Linked DNA regions of Homo sapiens: all the other regions are reported to be linked to region 2. The links are microRNA targets in miRTarBase. Many come from high-throughput screens and were not tested one by one. Region 2 holds a microRNA gene; each other region holds the end of a gene's coding sequence.

Evidence for each region. The annotated mature microRNA hsa-miR-3622a-3p reads UCACCUGACCUCCCAUGCCUGU and lies in region 2 at 1,716-1,737, opposite strand. An mRNA with a match to its seed (bases 2 to 7 or 8) in the 3' UTR can be bound and repressed. Matches are read on the target gene's strand: a 7mer-m8 pairs with bases 2 to 8, a 7mer-A1 pairs with bases 2 to 7 and ends in A, and an 8mer does both.
Region 1: miRTarBase lists C14orf180 as a target of hsa-miR-3622a-3p. Seed matches in the 3' UTR shown: 7mer-m8 at 1,333-1,339, 7mer-A1 at 2,016-2,022 and 7mer-m8 at 2,433-2,439.
Region 3: the mRNA of ZNF490 is a reported target of hsa-miR-3622a-3p. Seed matches in the 3' UTR shown: 8mer at 3,076-3,083 and 7mer-m8 at 888-894.
Region 4: the mRNA of MRPL16 is a reported target of hsa-miR-3622a-3p. The part of its 3' UTR that is shown has no 7-base or 8-base seed match.

The regions. Positions count from the first base shown.
Region 1 is chr14:104,588,068-104,592,067 of GRCh38, forward strand. It overlaps C14orf180 (chromosome 14 open reading frame 180), which reads left to right. Exons shown (of 5, transcript NM_001008404.3): 4 at 207-242; 5 at 511-2,448. The coding sequence ends at 716. It overlaps TMEM179 (transmembrane protein 179), which reads right to left. Exons shown (of 4, transcript NM_001286389.2): 4 at 2,797-4,000. Among named protein-coding and RNA genes, the nearest start is that of C14orf180, 10 kb to the left of the region's middle. RefSeq lists an enhancer at 1-266.
Region 2 is chr8:27,699,314-27,703,462 of GRCh38, reverse strand. It overlaps MIR3622A (microRNA 3622a), which reads right to left and starts at 1,786; the gene lies at 1,704-1,786. MIR3622B (microRNA 3622b) reads left to right here and starts at 1,696; the gene lies at 1,696-1,790. LOC124901920 (a long non-coding RNA gene) reads right to left here and starts at 2,493. Exons shown (of 2, transcript XR_007060869.1): 1 at 1-2,493. It also overlaps a transcript of SCARA3 not described here. RefSeq lists a silencer at 184-329.
Region 3 is chr19:12,576,811-12,580,810 of GRCh38, forward strand. It overlaps ZNF490 (zinc finger protein 490), which reads right to left. Exons shown (of 5, transcript NM_020714.3): 5 at 1-4,000. The coding sequence ends at 3,675. Among named protein-coding and RNA genes, the nearest start is that of LINC02926, 27 kb to the left of the region's middle. RefSeq lists an enhancer at 3,114-4,000.
Region 4 is chr11:59,802,673-59,806,672 of GRCh38, forward strand. MRPL16 (mitochondrial ribosomal protein L16) reads right to left here. Exons shown (of 4, transcript NM_017840.4): 4 at 3,468-4,000. The coding sequence ends at 3,675. STX3 (syntaxin 3) reads left to right here. Exons shown (of 11, transcript NM_004177.5): 11 at 1-3,206. Among named protein-coding and RNA genes, the nearest start is that of MRPL16, 6.1 kb to the right of the region's middle. RefSeq lists an enhancer at 137-186.

The DNA.
Region 1 (4,000 bases), not on the chromosome of region 2:
ATGAAACAGCAACTGGAGGAGAACATGAGGGCGGATTCTCAAATCATGACTGTCCCTTTGAGGAAGTGTCAGGACCGGCTGGGCCTGGGTCTCTCACTGATGAATAGTCTCAGGGTCCTTCGGGGGTGCAGGGTGAGACGAGAGGGCGGGGGCGCCCGATGGACTGAGGCAGGTGCCCCCAGCTGACTCTCCATTCTCTTTCGCAGACATTGCTGACAAGAACGCCACAGCCACTGTCAGGGGTGAGTTCTGAGCCCACATCCCTGTGCCCCACTGCCCCCTCCGTGGGTGCACCCACCCTCACTCCCTCCCCGAGGGAGGTGTCACAGGGCCAGGGCCTCTAAGGAGTCCCCAGTTGGGGAGCTCTTGTTGCAAGGAGACCCCAAGAGGCTAGGGAGGGGCCATGGGCATGGACAGGGTGGAATCTCCCCATCCCTTCCCCACCAGCCCCAGTCCTCCAGGGAAGGGTCGCGCTGGCTGGCGCTGACCCTGCCTGCCCTCTGGCCGCAGTGCCCGGCCGGCCCAGGCCACACGGCGGCTCCCTGCTCCTGCAGCTGTGTGTGTGCGTCCTGCTCGTGCTGGCCCTGGGCCTATACTGCGGCCGGGCCAAGCCCGTGGCAACGGCACTGGAGGACCTGCGGGCCCGGCTCCTCGGCCTTGTCCTGCACCTGCGGCACGTGGCCCTCACCTGCTGGCGCGGCCTCCTGCGGCTCTGACGGGCAGGACGGGCAGGACGGGCAGGGCTTCCAGGAGAGCTCAAGCACTCCGGGGGCTCCGAGACAGCCTGAGCCCTGGCCCTGCTGCTTGGTGAATCATGGGGGCCAAAAGGGGCTGCTGCCTGAGGGCTAACTAGGAAAAGGGGGACCCCGTGGCGTGAGATCGGACATGGGGGGCACAGCAGGCGGCCCCGCCACACTAGTCAGCACAGCCCTCCTGTCTCCTGTGTTGGGTCCATGTGAGATTTTATTAGAAAGAGGATTCGACTGCTAACAGTTGAGGCTCCCCAGGCTCACCCAAAGACCCCTCCCTCGTCCCAGCAGGAACTCCTGCTGCTGCTAGGGCCTGGCCCGGCCATCACCGTGTGCACCCTCTTGAGGAGGGGGACACACTGCCCGTGTTCAAGGGGCTGCTCGGAGGAGGCAAACCCAGCCTTTTGCGATTATGGCTTGTGGGGAATCCAGACCTCGAAACCCCACGGGGAGGGAAGGGTCTGGTTGTCAAGGTGGGTCCCTTTGATGTGAGGTGCCATCCTCTGAGCCCAGGTCTGACCCCCCTACCCAGCCCCGTGAGTCTGGAGAGGCCCCAGGGAAGGACCCCTCATCAGGGGCGGCTTCAGGTGTAGAAGCCGAGGGGACAGCAAGGGGCCCAGACACCCCCGACCTTCAGAACAGCCATCTGTGCCCAGCTCTGCAGGCCAGGCACACCCAGCTGAGCCCGGGGCCAGCCAGCACCACCCACCAGCTGGGGCCTGTGGGTCCCGGAGACCGTCTGTGGTTGTGGCTTTGTCGCCGGATTGCAGAGCTGAAGGGAGCCCTGTGGATGACAAACACCAGGGGCCTCTCCAGACCCTACGTGGGGGGAGGGCTGAACAAAGCAGGGAGGCCCACGGTTAGACACCAGGCAGAACTGCCCAGGAGAGACACAGGGACAATCAGACCAGCGTCCTCGAGGTTAGCCTGAGGCGGGTGGGCACGGCCGACCATCCACCCGGTGGTTCCTGTTTGTCCCACCACTTAACTGGGAGACACTGTTTTATTAAAACACACCGTGGCTTCCTTCAGTCTTGGTGTTTTTATAGAAATGAGAGAAACCAGAACCGATTTGCTAAGGAATCGGCCTCAGTGGCCAAAGCGGATGTCCTGGGCGCCTGGAACCTCCCCATCTCCTGCAGGCCTGGGAGTGGATGTGTCCACTCGGGCAGGGGCTGACCAAGCCCCTGGGTCTTGAGGGATGCCCGGCCGGCTCCCTTTGCCCTGCAGTCAGGGTGTGTCCCTGCAACTCCAGGTGCCAGGGAACAGGTGAAGTGGTCTCCAGGGTCACTTCCAGCTTTGGAATCCAGGGAGCCCAGAGTTGCGGGTGGAGGTAACAAAAGGGGCTGTTTCCAGAAGTGGCCCAGAAGGGACCATGGTGGGGGCTCCCCCGGGGACCCTCCAGCATCTCTCCCCAGGCCCAGCCCATCCCACCCCACCCCAGGAAGGAGGATGGGCAGGTTCCTGCCCCATATTCTGGATGCAGAAGCAGCGGCTCCCAGAGGTTGGGTCTCTCAGAGCAGTCACAGGCCCAGGCTCAGCCCTGTGTGCTTGGGACACCCCTCCAGCCCCGGTTCTGACGGGGGACACCGCACAGGCCGATCTCCCCCAGCCGCTGCTGTCTGTCCACTGCAAAGGCAACGCAAGGACGTGCCTGGCTTTGCGGGGTCCCACGCTACGACCTCAGGTGTTTTCGAATAAACATTGCTCAAAGATGGGCACCACACCCCCAAGAGATCCTTCGAAATGGATCCTCCCACCTGGGGAAGCTGCATGGGAAGCAGTGAGACTCGAAGCCACTAGAAAATGTACAGAGAGGAAGGCAGAACCTCGGGAAGGCCAACTTCTAATTCCTAAAAGCTTCGGACACGAAAGGCTCAAAGCCTGAGCAAACTGTGTGTGACCCACAAATTACAGACAGTTAGAACCACGAGCCAGGCCAGCCAACAGCGGAGAGGGCAGACAGAAGCCCCACACGCTCCTCCTCATCCCTGTTGGAGACTCGGGTGCTTTTGTTTTTATTTTGATTTTGAGGAATAGACACATGTAAGCTTAAGGATCTTTACTTTCAGTTTAGCCAGAGTGGAATTAGAACAGGGATATCATTAACAGCCAGCCAGGACAGAAGCGAAGGCGTCTCAGAAGCAACTTGGTGGACCAGCCTCAGGAACCCCGGGTCATGCCTGCACTTCCCACCTTCCTGCCTGGGGAGAGGCCCAATCCCCTGAGGGACCCTGGAGAGCCCACGACCAGGGCCGCCAGCCCCTGCCCAGCACACTGCAGGCCCAGCTGCCCCTTCCCAGGGCGATGTGTCTGGGCTCCGGAGACAGCCCAGTCCAGGGTGGGTCTATGTCTGCATGCAGCCGAGGATTTCCATCACCCTGGCCATGGGGCTGTTCCACACCTGCTCCTGGGATCCAGCAGTGCAGCCCCCAAGAACAGACCCAACCGGGGCCAAGCCTCAGGTTCCAGAAGCCACCCCTGCCTCCTGCCCCTCCTTCAGGGCCCTAGATGGCTGTGGCCTGGATCAGGGCTGGGCAGAGGGTGAGGCAGGAGCCACCCCACCTTCTGCTGGGGACACAGACAAGGAGCTCTCCGGACTGGAAAGAGTCCCCATGTCCAGTGGGTCAGGGCTGGAAGGGGAGACAGGGGACCCCATCAGCTTAGGGGGCCTCGGATTCTGTCCAAACCCCTTCCCTCGAGGACCTGGCTGCCAGCTGGAAACTCAGCTGGTCCCCAAGGCCAGAGCCCCCTTGAGCTTCCAGAGCCTCGATCCCCCTGGACTTGACACCCCCGATGGGCACCTGCCAGCCTCACTCCCGGGACCCAGGATGATGCCCCCACCAGGACCCTCCATGTGGACCCAGGCACGTGGCCTCCAGGAGGCTGGTGCCCAGCCACCCAGAGACACAAGCCAGCTGCTGATGGTGGACAGGGTGGGTCATGAACTCAGGGAGCCAGGGGCTCGCCTCTCCCCGGGAAGGTGGGCGCAGCAGCAGGGAGCACTTGGCAGCACTCGAGCCAAGAAACGGACAGCCCCTCATCGAGCCCCGGGTGGGGAGGCCCCCCGCCTCCGCCCCCGCCCCAGAACGAGTCCTCTGGAGGTGGACCCTGGGCTTTCCTGAGGGGCAGGGTCCACAGCCAAGCAGCCCCCTACGCCGGGGTCCCAGGTTCACATCCCAGCTCCTCCACTTGCTTCTGCGGGGCCTCAGCACACAGACTCTGCAGAATGGGAAGGCAGCTCCCTCCTC
Region 2 (4,149 bases):
CAATTCTGGGCCCACCCAGCCACCCCATCCTGTCCCCTCCAGCCTCACCCTGACTTCTCAGCTTTCACTTTTTTCTGCTGATGGGTTGGAAATTGCTACTCTCCTGTTTTCTCTCCACCTGCACTAACAAACCCCAAGTGCTGCCCCCAGCACGAATCCCTGGTTCCCGGGTCCTCTGCCAGGTGCAGGTGCTGCGGCTTCATGTTCAAAGGATTCTGGGCACTGCGCTTTCTCCCTTGATGTGCCCAGCCAGGCTGCGGGGATGGGAGGCTCCTCTCCTGTGCGGCTCAGGCTGTTTTTCTCCCCAGAGCCTTGTGGCCAAGTTTCCGTGGCCCTGTGCTCTGGACCCTGGGCCAGGGCTGTGGTGTGGGCAGCCTTGAGGCCCTGGGTTCCATGCCAGTTCTCGACAGGAAGGCCTTTCATGTGGGTGCCAGCTGGCCTCTGGGCCCAGCTTCGGGCCTGGCAGGGCCTGAGGAGGGAGAGCTGCGAGTGTGAAAAACACTTTCTGTTTGGGAGCTGGTTGGTGGGAAGGAAAGACAAGAGGGAGGGGGACAGGCAGGTCAAAGAGCTTACCCAGGTTTAGAGGAGCGAGGCCAAGGTGCCCCTGTAGAAATGAGGCGATTCGGCCTTTCCTCCCCAAAAAGAGGTCTTGGCAGAGATACAAGGAAGCAAAGTCTGTTGGGTGGGGATGGAAAACACTTTCCCAAGCCTGCCTTCACTCCCTCCCTCCCCCGGGCTCACTGAGCCTAATCAGGTCAAGCACGCAGCTCCCTGCCAGACACTGTGGCATTGTTTAAAGCCGCTGCCTCCCCAGTACCCTCTCCCCACAGAACTGAGTTCTGACAAAGGAGGCCCTGAGGGACAGGGCTGAGAGGACAGAGACCCAAGGTCCAGGGACGCGTCACTCCCCTATGGCTCGCTCTCCTTCCCACTGGTTATTGTTTTTCTACCCTGGACCCCAGGGAGAAAAGGAGCCAGGCCCTGGCAAACCTGAAGGCTGTTTGTGTTGACATAAAGGCACTTTCTGAGCAAACAGCACTGAAAGGTCAGCAGTAACCCCAGGCAGTGCCAGGACTGGGCAGCGGGTTTGGGAGGTGTGGAGAGAAAGGAAACTGTGGGCCACTTGGGGTCGGATGACTTCACCAGAAGAAGAAGAAAAGCCAGCCAGGCTGCAGGGAGGGGGCTTCCTGGAGATGGAGCCCTGGAAGACCTTGGCTACCCCATAAAACTTAAATAGGACTTGAAGTCAGTTGTTTATCTGCTTTCCAGAACACCAATGACATGGGAGAGAGGCTGGCGCCCTAGGCAGGACCCAAGCGAGCCTGGTGTCTGGGGCAGGATCTGCCACTACGCTTGGCTTTCTCACTGTAGGACTCAGTTTGCATGGGAAACCAAAGGAGAATTTCAAGTGTCCTACTCACACATATTCTAGCCTTTCAGGAAACATTTACTGAGCATACATCACCCACCTGATAGGGGGCTAAGCCTGGGAATGCTTTCAGAGATGAGTAGCACAAGGTCTCAGATAAGGTGACCCATTTTCCCCGTTTGCCTGGGCCTCCCAGTTTTAGCACTGAACATCCCTTAGCTCAGGAAGCCCAGGAAACCCTTTGGTTTGGGGCATACTTGGTTGGTTGGTCACCCTAGCATCAGTCATCAAGCAGCTCACGATCTGCAAACAATGGTAGACATACGAGTGATATAATAGAGGGTGCACAGGCATGGGAGGTCAGGTGAGCTCAGCTCCCTGCCTCACCTGAGCTCCCGTGCCTGTGCACCCTCTATTGGCTATGATCACACCACTGCACTCCAGCCTGGGTGACAAAACAAGACCTTGCCACTAAAAAAAAGAGAAAGAAAGAAAAGAAAGAAAGAGAGAAAGAGAAAGAAAGAGAGGAAGGAAGGAAGGAAAGAAAAAGCTACTTTTTGAATGAAAGAATGAAAAAGCATCTCTCAGCTAGGAAATGTCTTGCCATGATGACACCTGTGTTCAATGGGGAGCTACGAGAACATTTTAAAAAAATCTACTGTACTGAGGCATAATTTACATATAATACAATGCATACACTTCAATGTAGACTTTGATGAATTTTAACAAATATATACACTCAGTAACTGTTAAATCAATCAAAATATTTATAGCACCCCAGAAACTTCCCTATTTCTCTTTTGTAGTTAATCCCATCCTAACCATCCCATCCCAGGTAACCACTTACCTGATTTCTGTAACTATAGATTCATTTTAGTTTTTCTAGAACATCATCTCAATGGAATAATACAGTCTGTACTCTTTTGAGTGACTTCCTCTACTCAATGTGCTTTTGAGATTTATCCAAGTTGGTTTGCATATCACTAGTTTTTTTGTTTTTTTTTTACTGGTGAGTATGGATTTATCATAATTTTTCCATGCATTTGCCTATTGATGAACATTTGACTTGTTTCCAGTTTTTTGCTATTCTGGACAATGCTGTTGTGAATAGTATGTACAAATTTTGGTATAGAAAAACATTTTCATTTCTCTTGGGTAAAAACCCAGAAGTGAAATTGCTGGATCATAGGTTAAGTATGTGTTCAGATTTATAGGAAATCACCTAACTTTTCCAAAAGGGTTGTACCACTTCACAGTTTCACCATTAATGCATGAGAGTTCTCGTTGCTCCACATCCTCACAACATTTTGTATTGTTGGTTTTTGAAATTTTAGCCATTCTAGTGGTATCTCAGAGTGGTTTCATTTGCATTTCCCTGATGATTAATGAAGCTGGAACACTTTTTCATGTGCTTACATGGTCATTCATATACTTTTCTTGCAAAATGTCTGTTCATGTCTTTCATCTTTTTTTTTTTTTTTATTTTTGAGGTAGAGTTTTGCTCTGTTGCTTAGGCTGGAGTGCAGTGGTGTGATCTCAGCTCACTGCAACTTCCACCTCCTGGGTTCAAGTGATTTTCCTGCCTCACCCTTCCAAGTAGCTGGGACTACAGGAGCCCACCACCATGCCCAGCTAATTTTTGTATTTTTAGTAGAGACAGGGTTTCACCATGTTGGCCAGGCTGTTCTTGAACTCCTGGCCTCCAGTGATTTGCCCATCTCGGCCTCCCAAAGTGCTGGGACTTTCATCCATTTTTAATTTGAGCTGCATGTCTTTTTCTTATTGAGATGTATGAGTTCTTTATGTATCCTGAAAGCAAGTCCTTTGTCTCATATATGTATTGCAAATATTTTCTCTTATTCTGGGATTTTTTTTCTTTTCATGTTCTTAAAGGGATATTTTAAAGAATAGAGGGTTTTAATTTTGATATAATCCAATTTATCAAAATTTTTCTCTTATGGTTTGTGACTTTCATGACCATATTTCTTAAAGTCACAAAAATTATCTTATGTATTTTTTAAGAAGTTTTATAGATTTAGTTTTTACATTTAGGTTTGTGGTCCATATCAGATGAATTTTTGTGTATTATATGAGGTAATATCAAAGTTTGTTTTTTGCATATAAAAATCATTTGTTGAAAAGACTTTGAAATCATTGGTGTCTTTGGGGAAAATCAATTGATATATATGTGTAAATCTATTTCTGGATCTCAATGTGGTTCAATTGATCTATATGTCTGTCCTTACACCATTATCTCATTGTCTTAATTACTGCTGCTTTAGAGTAAGTCTTTTTTTTTCTTTCTGAAATTTTAAATTTTTATTTTTTGTAGAGTTGGGGTCTCACTATATTGTCTAGGCTGGTCTGGAACTTTTGGGATCAAGTGATCCTCCTGCCTGAGCCTCCCAAAGTGCTGGGATTGCAGGTGTGAGCCTCCATGACAGACCTAGAGAACGTCTGGATATTATGTAGTATAGGCCCTCCAACTGAACTCTTCTTCAAAATTCTGTGGATTTTCTAGATCCTTTGCACTTTTATATACATTTTTAGAATCAGTTTTGTCAGTGTCTTTAAAAACAAGGCTGCCGAGGCCTGGCACAGTGGCTTACGCCTGTAATCCCAACAACTCATGAAGCTGAGGTGGGAGGGTCACTTGAGCCCAGGAGGTCAAGGCTGCAGTGGACTATGATCATGCCACTGCACTCCAGCCTGGGTGACAGAGCAAGACTCTGTCATTTACAAAAAAGAAAGAAAGAAAAATAAGGCTGCTGGGATTTTGA
Region 3 (4,000 bases), not on the chromosome of region 2:
CTCAAAAAAAAAAAAAAAAAAAAAAACCTAAAAGCATTCCATATTTAAAAATATATATAAATATATATACACACAGCCCTCTAGACAAATATACAAAAATCACACACGTTATCACTGTACATACAGGTGGACAGACACAAATTCACAAACCCACAGGTGTAACAGCCCAGATACTAAAAGATTCTCCCAAATAGAAGGACCCCAGGTGTTCTGATCTCTTCTCCAGGTTTCTCTGGCTCCTCGGGAATAACCACCACAGTGCCTTATATATCCTTGCTTGCTTTCGTGTCTTCCAGAATGCCAGGATCAAGGGGACAGAGATATTAGCACAGCTTTGTTGACTACACCTATTAGAGGGAGTTACACAGAGGAAAATACTTACTGAATATTAGGACTCACACAGACACATACACAAAAGGGTTTTACAAAAACATCATCATAGACCCACATATACTTGTCCTTCAAAAAGTGAATGTTCTCACTCCCATTCCTGTAGCAGAGATACCCCTTAGTTCCCCAATACCTATCACAAAAGATGGCTCCTTGAGCCCATTCTGACAGTGAAGGAATCTCGAACTTCCTGACCTCCCACAGTACAATAATCATCTCTCTACAAAAGCACAACATGGCAGCTCAAGAATGTGAAAGGACCTGAAATGGGTTGAGTAATAATGTTCCAACCCCTCATACTACCATAAATGTTCCTGGTGAGAGAAGCGAATGTTCCTGGTGAGAGAAGCGAAGGTGTGCATCTCCTGGCTCAGCCACCAGGTCCTCCACTGCATCTCCACAGTAGCCGTCACTTCCACTGAGGCCTCATCTGCCAGCAAACCTTGCTCCAGTCGGCCTCTGGACCCTAGTATCTTCACCGTGGTTTTGGATGCTGCCACCTGACCCATCCCTGCTGTTGGGGGAGGGTGGAGGCCAGAGGCCTAAAGAGTTCCGACCCGAGCGACACAAAGATCACTTCTGGGACCCACCCAGGGAGACTGTTGTTACGAGGGTGGATGGTGACCTGGTTTCCCTCAATGCTGCCACCTCCCTTCTAAAACACACTGACTTGCTAAGAAAAGGGGGGACTGACTCCAACAAAGGACAGACCCGACCCCTATCGTGCCTATGCAATTCAGAAAACGGAGAATTCGGAGGCTCCAGCAAGCAGTTTATTGGGAGTTGAGTTCACCTTGCCTTGTGATGTGAAGCAAGGTAGTTCCATGGCTTGTGAACCCTGACACCAGCACCTCCCATACACAACAGAGCTGGAGCGCTGCAGGGTGGGTCCTTTTCCAAGAAGAGCTAAGTGCTAGTCTTAGCGGGAGGCTAGGAAACCAGTCCTGGAGCAGGATGCATGTGACATGCACTGACGTGAGAAGGCCGGAGCATCATCAGTGCATATGCCGCTGAATATCTCAGGGTAGAATGTGCCAGAAAACAGGGAAAGCAAGTTAGGGGAGGTAAGAATTCTGAGTGTCCTACAGCTAAGACATGGCAGAGTGTGTCTGTGACTCCACTAGCAGTTTTGAGATTATTCTGACTGTGGTGGTTGGTGCAGGGCTGGTAACCGCAGGAGAGTGGATGCTGTGTGGTCAAGGGGTGTGTGTCCCATGATACAGGCTCTGCTTCTTCAGTCTCTCACCTCAGAGCCACCTGCGGTTGCCACAGAGAAATTCAGATGTGAATGTTTAAACAAGTGTCCAAAGTGTAGGTTTGAGATGGGAAATGGAGCTGGAGATGACCTCAAAACAGCCCTGGAATAATGCAATGCTGACAATGTCTGTGAATTAGGATGTGCATAGGCAGATCCCACTTGGGGAAAAACTGTAAGATGCGAACCTTTGTCTTAGAAGTACAGCATTCCCACAGTCTGACCCGAGGACACTGATGGAAACTTAAAAGGCAGATTCTGGGAGTCTTCTCACTTCTCTCCAGTCATGTGTGAGAGCTGAGGGCAGGCACTGCCCTAGAGGGTGTTTCCTAACTTCTGACTGGATGCCACAAAAGGCCTGCTGGGGCCCAAGTCCTTCTTCCCCATTCCTTTAATTCTTCCTACGAAGAATCTCGACAATGGTTGCAGATGTCATTGAAGATGTTCCCATATTGCTTACATTTAAGAAGGTGGCTCTCCAGTGTGGGTGGTTTCATGGTTTTAAAATGAACTGGAGGCCGGGCGCGGTGGCTCACGCCTATAATCCCAGCACTTTGGGAGGCCGAGGAGGGCGGATCACGAGGTCAGGAGATCAAGACTATCCTGGCTAACACGGTGAAACCCCGTCTCCACTAAAAATACAAAAAATGAGCCGGGCGTGGTGGCGGGCGCCTGTAGTCCCAGCTACTCGGGAGGCTGAGGCAGGAGAATGGCGTGAACCCAGGAGGCGGAGCTTGCAGTGAGCTGAGATCGCGCCACTGCACTCCAGCCTGGGCAAGGACTCCGTCTCAAAAAAAAAAAAAAAGAACTGGGGGCCGGGTGTGGTGGCTCACGCCTGTAATCCCAGCACTTTGGGAGGCCAAGGCAGGTGGATTACCTGAGGTCAGGAGTTCAAGACCAGCCTGGCCAACATGGTGAAACCCCGTCTCTACTAAAAATATAAAAATTAGTTGGGCGTGGTGGCATGTGCCTGTAATGCCAGCTACTAGGGGGCCTGAGGCAGGATTGCTTTGACCTGGGAGGCAGAGGTTGCGCCACTTTCACTCCAGCCTAGGCAACAGAGTAAGACTCCAGCTCAAAAAAAAAAAAAAAAAAAAGTAAAACGAACAATTTGGGAGGCCAAGGTGGGTGGATCATTTGAGGTCAAGAGTTTAAGATCAGCCTGGTCAACATGGTGAAACACTGTCTCTACTAAAAATATAAAAATTAGCTGGGCATGGTGGTGGGCACTTGTAATCCCAGCTACTTGGAAGGCTGAGGCAGAAGAATTGCTTGAACCCAGAGGTTACAGTGAGCCAGGATCACACCACTGCACTCCAGCCTGGGGCAACAGAGTGAGACACCATCTTGGGGTGCGGCGGGGAAAAAAAGGTTGGGTGCTGTGGCTCACACCTGTAATCCCAGCACTTTGGGAGGCCGAGGCAGGCAGATCACCTGAGGTCAGGAGTTTGAGACCAGCCTGACCAACATGGAGAAACCCCATCTCTACTAAAATTACAAAATTAGCCAGGCGTGGTGGCGCATGCCTGTAATCCCAGCTTCTTGGGAGGCTGCGGCAGGAGAATTGCTTGAATCCGGGAGGCGGAGGTTGCGGTGAGCCGCGATCGCACCACTGCACTCCAGCCTGGGCAACAAGAGCAAAATTACATCTCAACAAAAACAAAAACAAAAAACAAACCCCACAAAAGATGGGATGGATATAGAATTTTCTTTATAGTTTCTCTCCAGTATATATTCTCAGGTGTCTTTAAAAGATTACGTGAAGTGAAGGCTTTCCTACACTCCATACATTCGTAGCTTTTCTGTCCATGGAGTCCATTCACATATCTGCAATCCCGCAGGAGAGTGCAAGTTCCTCCCCCATTTGTTAAATATTTCATTGCCGCATGAGTCACGTCTTCAAAGGGAATTAGGACAACTGAAGGCTTAATCACACCGTTTACATTCCTTGAATTTCTCTCCAGCGTAAGTACTCTCATACATCCAAAAGGAACTAATACAACTGACAGCATTACCACACTTTACTTTCTTAGGGCTTCTGTCTACTATGAGTCCTTTCGTGCACGTGCAAAGACTTTGAGTAACTGAAGGCTTTACCACATTGTCTACACTGAAAGGGTCTTTCTCCAGTATGAATTCTTTTGTGTACTTTCAGGGAATTTAAACAAGTGAAAGCTTTGCCACACTGCTTACACTCACATGGTTTCACTCCAGTGTGACTTCTTTCGTGCCTTCGAAGGTGACTGAAGTAAATGAAGACCCGACCACACTGTTTGCATTCATAGGGTTTCTCTCTAGTATGGGTTCTTTCATGGATTCGAAAGTGAGTGGAATAAAGAAAGGCTTTACCACATT
Region 4 (4,000 bases), not on the chromosome of region 2:
TAAAAATAAAAATGACTTTGTATTGATTGTGAAACGGTTCTGGCTCTGTCTCGATGCAGAAACACAATGATCTGGTGCCACCATGTGGTGATTTTTATTCAGGTTTTAGAATGCAGTTCACACCTTTTTAAGCCATGTGCTGGATCAGATGGTTCAAAAGTGCAATTTTTGAACATGGTTTAACTCCCACAGAATGCAGTGTAACTATGTTTGTGTTTCAGATTTGAGGTGTTCCCCCCAAAAGAATTTGGTTCAGTCCTTGGGAGTATCTGGCTTTAGGAGGAAATGGGGGAGATCTGTCACGATGTTATCTAGAAGGTGGAATGACCATACCAAACATCCTTTTAATCTAACTTGAATGTCTCACCAAAAATAACATTTCTGTTGGCATTCTGGGTCCTAGAAGCCAGATCCATCTCCTTTTTCCTTCTGTTGCTCTCTTCCTTCACACCCTCTTCCATGTCCACATGCACTTATCTCCCTGCAGAATACTTTTTGCGATGATGTTTCTCATGTATTCTTTCTTTCCTTGTCTGGATGAGCAGAAGAAGATCATGATCATGATCTGCTGTATTATCCTTGCGATCATCTTAGCTTCCACCATTGGGAGCATATTTGCCTGAAAAAGGTGAGCCATCTGTGGGGAGGGTCAGACCTTCTTTCACTGACTTGAAACCTTTGTGTCTTGGGGGCACTCTAGGTGCCTTAATCTGGGTGGGATTAGGTGCTAATAATGGTTAGAGAAAACTAAAGAAAGGGATGTTTCAGAGACAGAAAAGTGAGTGAAGAATGAACTGTTAGTAGGTAGTCTGTGGGAGGAGGGGGGAGACAGAAGGTGGCAATCTGTCCTATAACCTGGTGTGGCAGAATGCTTTGTACAGGTGAAGGATAGTGATTCCTGCTAAACAGTTTGAGCCTTGGTATCTGGAAGTGACAAAAAGAACAAGAATTAGTTCTTGCATTAGGTGCATCTTGAACTTTTTGGAAGAGGGCCGGCCACACAGTAAATTCAAATTAAATTTCTTCCCTTTCAAGGTTAATGAAAGTTAACACAGCCTTGTATGTAGTCCTTTACCCCGGGTAAGAGGGATTTGGTGATCCCAGCCACGAACACCATGCTATATAATCTATGATTTTTTTCCTCCATTTTTCTGTTATCTCCCACAGCCCTCACAGATTGATCGACTGGCATTTCTAATCCTCCTTCCACTTCTGTGGTACCATCACTTCTCCACGCAGACTCCTCATCAGCTTCTCCTCTTTCCATTATGAAACTTCTTAAGAAACAGGGCACCAATCAACTACTTATTAAGAATTATGCAAAGAATAAACGTATACAGAATTGGGCGGAGGACAGGGACAGGGAGTACAGATACATAGCTGATTAGGCAGATGGTTTAAAGGAGGACTGCAGGGTAGAGAAGCAAGCAGAGTGGGCGCCTCTTTAGGAAGTGACACAGCCTGCATGTGCAGTATGGCTGTGAAGGGGCAGATATCATAGCACACCTAACTCAACAGGATCTTACTTGAACTGCTGTGAGTTGGTCAAGTCAGGGCACTTCTGCTCTTCAGGCTCCTCTAGGTCACACCTTTGACCACCCTACATCTGTTTCCTCTTTCAGGCTCCAGTAGTAGTCTTAAAAGTGAAGTTTATCTAAGGATAAGCACATGCCTATCTTGCTCACTGCTGTGTCCCCACTTTTTAGCACAGCGCCTGCTGCTTACAGGTACTCAAATATCTGCTGACTTAATTACTTATAATTAAGCTCTTATTTCAGTCATGGACAAATCCTTGGGTTTGACTCCTAAACTCTTTAAGGTACCAATGAGAACGTGGTTTGTTACTGTCAGAGGCTGTGTAAAGCCGCTTGGGAATGGGCTGATCTGCTTATGCAAAAATGCTACCAACCTTTCAAACCCCATTACCACAACATGAAAATTTAAAGTGCTTTTTCTATGGGTGGTGATGGTGGAGTTCTAGCAACAGCCTCTTAATCTGTGGAGAAGATGGCTGGCTCCAGGACTGTGGTTCAATAACGAAATACAGGCCCACAAAATAAAATAGGTTTATAGCATGACTGAACTCACACATCAGTAGAACACTCTGTGAACCATAACAAAGAACAGATAAAGGTGTCAAGTGAGAAAGGTGAAATGAGGTTATCACTCACTTCACCTCTCACCTGATTTGTGTTGCTAGCTGAAACTGCTGGCCAGTAACGTATGTATAAGAAACTGTTATAGGCCGGGCACGGTGGCTCATGCCTGTAATCACAGCACTTTGGGAGGCCAAGGCAGGTGGATCACCAGACTGACCAACATAGTGAAACCCCCTCTCTACAAAAAATACAAAAATTAGCCAGGCATGGTGGCTTGCACCTGTATTCCCAGCTACTTGGGAGGCTGAGGCAGGAGAATTGCTTGAATGCAAGAGGCGGAAGTTGCAGTGAGCCGAGATCGCGCCACTGCACTCCAGCCTGGGCAACAAGAGCTAAATTCCATCTAAAAAAAAAAAAAAAACAAAAAAAAAAAACTGTTCTTAATACTTAATACTGTCCCCAATTCCATTCAAGGTTCAGTTGTGTTCAGCTTTAAAACCAGCTATGTGAATGTGAGTTCTAGTGCAGATTATTTAGTGATTATGTAACTAAAATTGATGAAAAAATCACACTATACAACTGTGAGGAGCACACAACTGCTAAGTTTGTACTTTTGAAAGTAAATTATTCTTTGTTTGATACCTTATTTTTTAAGAAAGTGGGATTAAAAATATTTTGGTCAGTGCTGTTTTCTACCCACCTTCAAAAGCCAATGGTTTGATATTTCTATTAATTTGTGCTTCCTTTAGTTTTAATAGGGGATAGAAGACTGCAGCTGGTTGGGTCTGGAAAACATTAATCTGGGCAAACGGAGCTGGAGCTATGAGGATCTGAGTCCTAGGGGGCCCTCATTCACTAGCAGTAAGAATTTAAGTGGTGCATGGCACATAGCACTGTACTAGATTCTGCAGGGGCACAAACATAGAGCCAAACACTCTCCCTCTTGGAGAATTTCAGACCCAGAAAAGGCCACGCAGTTCTAACTTTTGTCATCGGTTCCTTTTGCTAAAAGGCAAAGGGTATGTTCCTTGCCTATTGTCCAACATACCCCTTCCAAGATTGTGAGAAGATGGGTAGCTGGGCATCAATAAATATTGAATCAATTGACCTATGTACTGTTGTTTTTTTCTTACTCTAAAAATGTGTTTTTAACCTAGTAAAATATCACAGAAACTGGCTCCTGAAGTGTGTACGTATAAAAGGCAGTATAAACATTTAAGTGAGACTCGCATCATAGATGGGGGAATGCAAACATTTGTTTCAGCCTTCATGTTCATCTTACACCCCAGGAGGACCAAGAACTCTTTAGTCATTGAGGCCTATTTCTTAATCTTTTAAGGGATTAAGAATGACCAATGAGAAGTTATATCCTGAAGTGATGTTTAAATTTTATTTAATAAAAATACAGTTTTCTTTTTAAATCAACAAATAACATTGTTTTTCAGAAATCTACTCAAATGCTGCTCCTTAGTTATGGCTTAAGAGCTACCCAAAGACTTCAGTGGGTAGGCTGAGGGGAATAGAAATGCAGAATCCTTCTTTCAGTAGCCTATATACAGTTATCTCCTACACTCACTACACACGTTTGGGCATGTAGAACTTGCCCCAGTATTTCCCCTTGTGGGTCAAGTCATATGGGCTCAGTACTTTCCGTATGCCCAGCATGTTGGCAGTGGCTATTCGCTCAAATGTCCAGGGGTTCTGGTTGTTACGTTCTCTTTCCTCTTGATCTTTTCGCATCTTCTCTAGAGTCCCGCGGCTCACAGCCTTTGCTGCGAAGGGCAACTTGTGGGCAACCTGGTCAAGGAAACCTTGCACTTCTTCAAATTCACAACGCCCACCCATCTCTACAACAAGGCGGCCAGCCTTCACAGGTGTCACGTAGTGGTCAATAGCACCTT